3 linked regions of the Homo sapiens genome follow. The protein of the gene in region 3 interacts with the protein of the main gene of each other region in a pairwise test. Each region holds a gene or a part of one and is shown on either strand. Other genes may lie near its edges.

The links.
Region 1: the proteins of ZMYND12 (region 3) and SAXO1 interact in binary tests that used the Homo sapiens proteins (3 or more experiments, as listed by UniProt).
Region 2: the proteins of ZMYND12 (region 3) and SAXO4 interact in binary tests that used the Homo sapiens proteins (3 or more experiments, as listed by UniProt).

The regions. Positions count from the first base shown.
Region 1 is NC_000009.12:18,929,558-18,932,244, reverse strand, and holds part of SAXO1 (stabilizer of axonemal microtubules 1), read left to right. Parts: intron 1-2,687. UniProt on the Homo sapiens protein: May play a role in the regulation of cilium length. Stabilizes microtubules at low temperature.
Region 2 is NC_000011.10:61,487,524-61,491,180, forward strand, and holds the end of SAXO4 (stabilizer of axonemal microtubules 4), read left to right. Parts: intron 1-2,258; coding exon 2,259-2,423; intron 2,424-2,977; coding exon 2,978-3,047; 3' UTR 3,048-3,061; intron 3,062-3,290; 3' UTR 3,291-3,405; downstream 3,406-3,657.
Region 3 is NC_000001.11:42,445,947-42,449,603, forward strand, and holds part of ZMYND12 (zinc finger MYND domain-containing protein 12), read right to left. Parts: intron 2,693-3,657; coding exon 2,521-2,692; intron 1-2,520. UniProt on the Homo sapiens protein: Required for sperm flagellum function and male fertility.

The sequences.
Region 1 (2,687 bases), on a different chromosome or scaffold from region 3:
ATGCAAAAAGACGAAGTTACCGCATCCAAACTCAAAAGAGTCAGAAACCTAAATGTAATAGCTAAAACTATAAATGTTTCAAAATAAAACATGGGAGAAAAATCTATGATATCTTGGGACAGGCAAAGAATTTAGACATGGCATCAAAAGCATGATTTATTAAAGATATAAATAGGACTTTATCGCAATTCAAAACCTTTGGGCACTTAGAAAGACACCATTAAGAAATGAAAAGAGTCAGGTGTCAGGTGGGTGTTTTGTTAAAATAATAAGAAAATGAAAAGAGAAGTGATAGACTTGGAAAAAAATTTGTAAATCACATACCTGGTGTAAGATTTGTATTTAGAACATGCAAAGAATTCTATAACTCAATAAGAAGACAATCTAATTTTAAAATGGGCAAAACATCTCAATATTTTACCAATGAAAGCACATGAAGAGCGGATAAGTGCATGCAGAGATACTCAACATCATTAGTCATTAGAGAAATGTAAATGACACTGCAAGATACTACTAAATACCCATTGGAATGTCTATAATAATTTAAAAACACAGATGATAACAAATATTGACAAGGATGTGGAGAAATGAGAATGTTTATACGTTGCTGGTGGGATGTAAAATGGCACATCTACTTCTCCACTTTGAGAACATTTGGCAGTATCTTTTTTAAAAAGCTAAAGATAGATTTTTCTATACAACCTAGCAATTTCACTTTATTATCTACCCAAGAGAAATGAAAATATATGTTCACACACAGACTTCTTCACAAAGGCTCATAGCAGAATTTCTTTATAATAGCCAAGGAGTAGAAACAACTCAAAATGTCCATCAATTGGTGAATGATAAACAAAATTTGGTATCATATAATATTATTCAACAATAAAAAGGTGAACTACTGATACAGGCTACATTATGGATGAACCTCAATTACATTACACTAAGTGAAAGAAGCCAGATGCAAAACGCTACATATTGGGTGATTCTATTTATATGAAATGTCCAAAAAATGCGCAGTTATAGAGACCAAGAGCAAATTAATGGTTGCCTGGGGCTGGAGATGGGAGTAAAGACTGACTACAAATGAAGATAATTGGTATTTTTGGCATGATGCAAATACTCTATAACTTGATTTTGGTGATGGATATACAACTCCATAAAAGTCACTAAATTGTGTACTTCAGATGGTACCTTTTATTATGCAAATTAGATTTCAATAAAACTGTTACAAATTGTGCCTGCGGACTCCACTAGTGTTGGTGTGTATACCCAAGGCTCCTGGGAAGCAGCTTTTTTTTCTAACCTTTCGTACAGCAGTAAGCAAGAGAATTCCCTATAGATTCAGAGGGCTCACTAGGGCTAATTTAAATCTGGTAATTTATGGGCCTGATGGGGCAACCTAGGTCTTGGATGTTAGTCAAGTATTTTGAAAGAATGCCAGCAGTAGGCCGGGCGTGGTGGCTCACGCCTGTGATCCCAGCACTTTGGGAGGCCGAGGTGGGCGGATTACCTGAGGTCGGGAGTTCGAGACCAGCCTGACCAACACGGAGAAACACCGTCTCTACTAAAAATACAAAATTAGCCGGGTGCGGTGGCACATGCCTGTAATCCCAGCTACTAGGGAGGCTGAGGCAGGAGAATCGCTTGAACCTGGGAGGTGGAGGTTGCGGTGAGCTGAGATTGTGCCATTGCACTCCAGCCTGGGCAACAAGAGTGAAACTCCATCTCAAATAAAAAAAAAAAAGTTCCAGCAGTGCCAAGGCAGTTGAATCACATGGTTTGTCATCCCATTTTTCTCACCTAGACTTTCAGTCTTGGTGTGCTGGCCCTGATGGTCTGTGTGGCAAAGCCAGTTTCAAAGGCTTACAGTGCTGCCTGAAGACAGTATCTGGTCCTCAAGATGCATGGAGGCCATCTCTACTGCAGATTTCCTTGGGGTCCAGGCCTCCCATTATGTTGGCCATTCCAGCCCCACAGCAGAGGTTCCTCTGGAGATGGACATCTAGATTGGCCAGTTCTTCTCATTCTTCAAACATTCTGAAGTTCTTTTCCTCCTGAAAATCTTCCCTCTGATTATTTTTTTCTTTAACCTTTACTCCATCTGGAAATAAAATGCCCCTAAGTGTGATATGAGGTATCAGAAGAACATGGCTTTGGAGACAACAATACGGTTTAAATTCCAACTCACCTCACTAGCCATGTGACTTTTGGGCAAGTTTCTTAGCTCCTCTGAGCCTTGTATTTAGAAATCTGTAGAATGGAGAGAATCATACCCATCACAAAGGGTTATTGTGAAGATGAAACAAGATCATGTATGGAAAGACTTGAGCACAATTGACCGACATGTAGTTGGTATTCCCTAACTGTTAGAACCAGAGAGTAGAGTGGGTCAGATCGTGGGCTCTGGGTCTGAATTTGCATTTGTGCTTTTCCACTTCTAGCCAAGTGAGCTGGGACAAATTCCCTCATTTTCTGTATATCTGTTTCTGCATCTATAAAACTGGCATTAATAGTACCCACCTTATTAGGACAGTCTGAAGATTAAGTGAGTTAATATATACAGCACTTAGAATACTGCCTGTTATGTAATAAGTTTTATATAAGTGGCAGCCACTGTTCTCTCACCACCCAATACAATGCCCTATTCCCTTGGAGCAGCATATTTGATTTATGTGGATTACATGTGA
Region 2 (3,657 bases), on a different chromosome or scaffold from region 3:
ACAACTCAGAACTACCCCAGTCAAAGGTGAGAGAGCTGGGGTATTTATACCCCCACATCCATCGGTCATTGGTTAAAGGCTATCCCCAGGGCAACATTAAAGCCCAGGTGCCTCCTTGCTCAGGCAAAGCAGCTTCTAGCATCCCAAGGGTAGCTTTCCCACAGAGATGCAGGGCATTGGTGGCCAGGCTGGTGGGCATGGAAAGAACAGGGCAGTGCGAGGGAGTCTGGAGCAGCAGCATCTGCTAAGACATTCCATCCAGCCAATGGTTGGTGGGCTCGATGCTCCCTCAGAAGGTAAATTCTGTGCTGTGCATTCCCTGGGTTAGGAGTGACTGTCCTGGGCATCAGGGAGGGCTTCCAGGAAGGAGGTGGCCCCAGAGCCATGGGGAAGCCTCCTGGGGCCAGGACTGGGTGGGGAAAGCATTATAGGAGTGGTATAAAGGAAGTGTAATTCTTCTTCTTCTTTTTTTTTTTTTTTTGAGATGGAGTTTCACTCTGTCGCCCAGGCTGGAGTGCAATGGCGTGATCTCAGCTCACCGCAACCTTCGCCTCATGGGTTCAAGTGATCCTCCTGTCTCACCCTCCTAAATAGCTGGGATTACAGGCATGTGCCACCATGCCCAGCTAATTTTTGTATTTTTAGTAGAGATGGGGTTTCGCCATGTTGGCCCGGCTGGTCTTGAACTCCTGACCTCAAGTGATCTGCCTGCTTTGGCCTCCCAAAGTGCTGGGATAACAGGCATGAGCCACCGTGTCCTGCCAAGAAGTACAATTCCTTTTTTTTTTTTTTTTTTTTTAAGATGGAGTCTCTCTCTGTCGTCCAGGCTGGAGTGCAGTGGTGCGATCTCGGCTCACTGCAAACCCCGCCTCCCGGGTTCACGCCATTCTCCTGCCTCAGCCTCCCGAGTAGCTGGGACTACAGGCGCCTGCCACCACGCCCGGCTACATTTTTGTATTTTTAGTAGAGACAGGGTTTCACTGTGTTAGCCAGGATGGTCTTGATCTCCTGACCTCGTGATCTGCCCGCCTCCAGGAAGTATAATTCTTAGGACAAACTCCGAGCCAGGAAGCGCAAGCTTTCCTCACAACATCAGTCACCTGTGTCCACCCTGCTTCCTCTCCAACTCCTGGTCCTTCAAGGTGTCCCTGCCACCTCTCTGTCTCCTCCCCCTGCCCCACCCCCTGCTCCGGGATACCTCCCAGAATCCATTCATGGAATAGACTTTAACTGAGCCCTGACTGGGTGCCAAGCCCTGCTCCAGGCCCTGGGAATGTGTGTGCAGCTCCTGCCCTACGGAGCTCAGACCTCTGCATGGGAGGAGACATGCATGTGGCTGCAGCCAGTTAGCGAGAGCTGTTAGGTAATGCGCAAAGAGAAAGGGATCGCGAGGGCTGCAGTGCGCACGGGTCGGATTTGAAATCGGTGGCCTTGAGCAGGTGACGTTTGAACTGAGACTGAAAAGAGGGGAGGGCGGTGTCCTGGAGGAGCAACAGAGAGTCTGAGCTGGAAGGGCCGTTTGTTGTCCTCTGGCCTAAACCCTGAGGCTCAGAGGGGAGGAGCAGAGCTTCCGCCCGCACAGCAGACTCAGCACAGTGGCCGCTCCAGTTCCCACGGAGGTGGGGGAGGGGCAACGATGTTCTGACCCCTTCTTAGGCAAACACCTCCTCCTGTGGCTCTGGCAGAGACCAGCTCCAGTCCTGTCTGCTGGGTCCTTCCAGCCTGTCGTGTCCTGTTGTGTCCTGAGCTCCTGCTGGCTGTCAGGCACGCTTGCTGGTGCTTCCTGGTGCGCGCAGAGCCCCGGGATTGTCATCACTGATTCCTGCATTGATCTGTCTGCACCCCCTCTTCATAAGTTCAAGGGTGGGACCCCCTTCTTACTTGTCTTTGCACCCTCTGGACCTGGCTGTGCTCAGTGAAATGGAAGGAAATGGAAATGAAATGGAAGGAAAGTTAAGTGCCTAGAGAAGTGGATGAGACGGGGTCCCCACCCCAAGGTACTGGCAGGCCAGGGACAGGGGCATCACTGAAACTGTCCTTTAACACTCCAAAGAGTGTTTCAGCGTCAGGTGGAGGGGAGGGCAGGCTTTTTGAGTAAGAGTTCCCCCAGTGGACGTGGGCTTAGGGAGAGCTAGACGAGGACAGCATGAGCAAAGGTGGGGAGGCTGGGCGATCTGAGGGTCGATGGAGAAGGGCAGCAGGGGTTGCAGAGGTGGGCAGAGTCCAGCTTCCAGCCAAGGACCCCTCCTCTCCTCCAGGTACTTTGAGAACATCCCCAAGGGTCTAGACCAGGAAGGCTGGACTCGAGGTGGCATCCAGCCCCAGATGCCAGGAGGCTACGCCCTCAGCCAGCCGGTCAGCTGCATGGAGGCCACCCCCAACCCCATGGAGAGCCTGCGGCACCTGCATCCCCACGTGGGAAGGTGGCACCACCCCCAGCTCTGTTCTTTCTCCCTACCCCTCATCCAGGCCGTGTGCCAGGCCTTTCCCTTCCTCTCCTCTCTTGCTGTCAGTCCGGTTCATTCCTATGAGAGGCCCATCTCCTCTGGCTGGCTCTGGTGTCCCTTCTCCTGCTAGCACAGGCTCCTCCCCTCCTCTCCTTCCAGTGACCCCTCCCTCAGATGGCTCCTCCTCCCTCTCCTGCCCCTGTTCCCCAGGCCCGGTGGACTGGATGGGGAGGATCTGAGCAAGGGGCTCTGGGGTGGTTCAGATCCAGAGGGGGATGCGGGGACGGATCCAGAGATGAATGGACTGTGGTTCGGCCTCACTCAGCTCCTTTCTGCTCAATTCAATTCCTCAGAAATTACATTTATATCAACAATGGCCCAGAGTTGGCAGGCAAAGAATGTTTGTGGCTTGGCTGCCCTGGCTGAACCCTGGCTATGCTCTCTCAGGGAGGGTCAGGCAGAAGACAAGAAGACAAGGTCCATGCCCTGCCTGCCAACACCCCCAACACTCTCCTCTTGCCTCCCTGCAGAACCCTGACCTCAGCTGACCCCTTCTACCAGAACACACCTCACAGCAGCCGCTGCGTGGCACACAGCTGAGCCCTGAGCCCTTGGTAAGGGGCTGGGGATCCCCACACTCAGCTGCTCTGGTTGTGTGGGCAACCGTTATGGGCCAGCCCTGCCTCTCAAGCCCTGGGTTAAGCAAGTCCTGCCTGGGGACCCCCCTTCCAAGTGGGGGGTGACAGATCAGGGGGCCTCTCAGAACCCCTTCTCTGCCAGGCAAGCACACAGAACCACCCCAGAGCCCCTTGCTCAGGCCTCGCCTCTGCTTCTCCTCTACAGGTTTGTCAATCCTAGGGGACAGGAGCCAGGCTACTGTCTGTACCCCCACTCCATCCCCCAGGGGAACACCCCTGCCCAGCTACTTTCCTAATGAAATAAAGAGCATTGAAGCAGAGAAGTGTGACATCACTATCAGGGTGGCTGGAAAAAGGAGGGGTGAGCTGGGGCGGTGGGTGCAGGGGTGGAGGAGCTAGGGCCAGATTTGGAGTCGGAAGGGCTCGGCTGGAACCTCTGAGGAACCATGACACGATGGATAGGCACTTCATTCTCCACGCTCAGTTTCTTGTCCTGTAAAGGGGTCCTCTATGGCCTGTGCTGCTTGGGAAAGTGCTTGGTCAAGTGTGGGTGGAAGAACCCCAGGGGAGGG
Region 3 (3,657 bases):
GGCTGTATTTTCTTGTCCAGTGCTTTTCTCATTACTTTGGAGGAAAGACAGTCTGGAATGGGGTGTCAGACCTGGGCAGGGTGAGCAGGGCATTCCTGCAGGCAAACAGCCTGTTATGGGGAGTTGGAACCCACACAAGTGAGGAGGGATCCATGCAGCAGAGGCAGCCTGGAATGGGGAGTCAGGGCCCATGGAGCGGGAAGAGGTATCTATAAGGTGGAAAGGACGGAGTTAGAGAGCGGGGATTGATTCATACAGGGGAACTCATTAATATGTAAATAAACCAATGAAAGTGAAAGCTGTCAGCAAAGGGAGTTGCAATTAAGGAATGGAAGTAAATCAGATTGAACCCTATGGTGCTGTATTAGATCTGGATCAAACAGTATAGACTAGTGGTCATAGAGATATTGATGTAGATATATAGATACAGGCCAGACACGGTGGCTCATACCTGTAATCCCAGCACTTTGGGAAGCTGAAGCAGGTGGATCACTTGAGGACAGGAGTTCAAGATCACAAACATGGTGAAACCCCGTCTCTACTACAAATACAAAAATGAGCCAGGCGTGGTGGCACACACCTGTTGTCCCAGCTACTCGGGAGGCTGAGGCAGGAGAATTGCTTGAACCAGGGAGGTGGAGGCTGCAGTGAGCTCAGATTGCGCCACTGCACTCTAGCCTGGGTGACAGAGTGAGACTCGGTCTCAAAAAAAAAAAAAAGATATATAGATATAGAAATAAATACAGATGTAATGTGTGTATACGTACACCCATTATTATATTTACACTTACTCCCTAACTCCACTGAGAAGGCCTGGGAGCAGTAATACCCCAAAAGCATGAGTACATCTAGTGCACAGCTTTTGGCTTCTGATTTTCACTTTCCACTGAAAGAGATCAGGGCTCTTTAGAGGTATGTTCCAGAAAGCAGTCAAGTGAGCAAAGAACAAATGGGGTTGTATCTGGGAGATGCAGAAGCCAGCTTGAGTGGGGTTTGTCACTGGTCAAATCAGGGACAGTTTGAGGATCAAATTAACGATAGTAATGGATTTAAGCCCATTGAATAAAGATAAAATACTGATACAAATAACTAAATGAATACATTGAAAATTCGATGAGGAATGGGATATTTATATAGTTTCAAAGGACGTATCCATGAAATGAAAATTAAAGTTATTAATTACAGAAGGGTGAAAGAGTAACATTACAGGGAGGAAGACTGGCAGACGCCATCCTAATAAAGTAATTAAAATGAACATCATCAGTAATGAAAAAAATGAAAACATGCCAGTTTATAGGATGGGATGAGAACACAGCATCACCTCTGTACTGTTTTTGCCAAAAATCCATAACGTGAGTCCCATCATTAGGAAATATCAGACAAACTCAAATTGAGAAATGTTTTATACAATTGGCCTGTAACCTGTAAAAGTGTCAAGATCATAAAAGTCAAGAAAAGGTTGAGAAACTATTCCAGAGTTTTGTTGCCAACACATGGCAACAAAATGAAAAGTGTGACCCTGAACTGTATCCTTTTGCTATAAAGATGTTATTGGGAAAATTCGAGAAACTTGAATGGGGTCTTCTTAGATGACAGGGTCCCCTTGTGTGGTTCCCACAAAGACATTCTCCTTCATAACCACAATACAATATATCTCATTTACTAAGGGGACACTGAAGTATTCTAAGGATAGGGAATCAGGTGAACAACTTACTCTCAGAGAACTCAGGGGATAAAAGTTCTTTATATTGTACTTAATTTTAACAGTTTTACTTTTAAAAAAGTTTTACTTTTAAAAAAGTATTTTTTTAATGGTGGCTATTAAAACATATGAAGCATTTTTTTAAATGGTGGCCACCATGTAGGGTATCTGCTAAGTCTGCTCTATACTCTCAGAATTGCCTCTCCCATCTATAGGGGTGGGTTCCTGTATTTCTGAACTATGTGGCTCTGATCCCAGGGAATAAAGGTGGATTCCACACTCAAGCCATGTCAACAAAATTCTGTCTTCTACGAATTTGTATTTGGAAATCAGAAGCTAATTAGTTTCTACTGCCTACTTCAAACCTAGAAAACACGTAAACTGAAAAACTCCATCTGACATTTTGGGGTAGCTGTCTTCTACAGTGAGCATAGGGTAGACAAATCTGGTCTGCAGAGAGGGAAAATAGCAAAGCAGATAGATACCCAGAGAGAAGTAGATACAGGAGACAAGGCCCAAGAGAGAACGAAAGGCACTCCAATTCTAGTCCCTCATGAAGCCTCAGCTCCTGTAGGATACTACAGCACCCGCACAAAGTTCCTCCTTTTTGTGCAGGCCAGCTTGAGTGGATTTCTGCCAGTTGTAGACAAAAGTCTGTGACATCTCCTTCCCTACCTTGTGCTAAACTTTACAGCAACCCTGCTCCTTCTACAATAGGTCTCTTGGTGCCACTGTCAAGGGTGACTCTTTGATCATTGGTGTGACCCAAACATAACACCACTTAAGGGATCCAAGGATCTCAAGTCGGTTTCACTCACCAAGGCTGGCCTCGGCCAACAGCAGGTAAGCAGGCACAAGCTCTACGGAGCTCAGGCCATACAGCTTCACACGGAAGCGAAGGGACTGCAAAGCTGCTGGTACAGCATCTTCGTGTTTCCCTTCAAAGAGGTATTTCTGGGCTATGGTGTAGCAGAATTCAATCAAATACTTCTGTGGAAGAGAGAAACAGACTATCTGAGACAGTCTAAAGTTAAAGGCAAAGGTGGATGTAGATGGCCCTGGGGATAAGGCCAACACCTAATGACCCAGTTAAAGGCACATAGTGAGCCTGCCTGTATTAGAGTGGACGTGAAGCCCCACATAAGTGATATAAGAAAGCAAACTCTGGACTATGAGTTCCTTAAGGCCCAGGAACATGTGTATTTTCATCTTAGTTCAGCGCTTGGCATAGATGAATGCTCAATATAGAGTTATCAGATGAATAAATGAGTATTGTTTTTACAGTTCTAATAAAACTTTACTTTAGCAAAGCTAGCATGTCTCAGGACAATCTGAAACTTTCTGCCTTCCTAGTTGAGTTAATTTTGAGAGAAACATCTCATTTTCCCTTCCAGAATTATCCTGTTTAGCTAATATCACAAAAAACTTTAACTCTGCATTGTTCTAAGGCCACTATCAAAGTGTCATAACACTAAAATGGATGGATCTTATGTTTAGAGATTTATGGCTTATAATAAGGGGCTAATTTTTTAGAGTGATTGAGATGCTCAATACTCAATAATACTCAACACTATACATAATAATAGTGGCAGGTTTTGGTAACCTCCTTTATTTATTCAGTAGTATATCCATACATCATTCTTAACCCTCCTATTATGTGGCCAGACTCTTGGCATCTGTGGATGTTATGGGCTGAACTGTGTCCCCTGCCAAAATTCATGTGTTGAAGCCCTATCCTGCAGTCTGTCACATGACTATAATTGGAGCTAGGGCCTGTAGAGTGGTGATTAAGTTAGAATGAGGCCATTAGGGTGGGCCCTAACCTAATCTGACTTGTGTCTTTATAAAAAGAGGAAATTGGACACACAAAGAGATACCAGGCATGCTTGCACACAAAGGACCATGTGAAGACACTGTAGGAAGGCAGCCATCTGAAAGCCAGGAAGAGAGGCCTC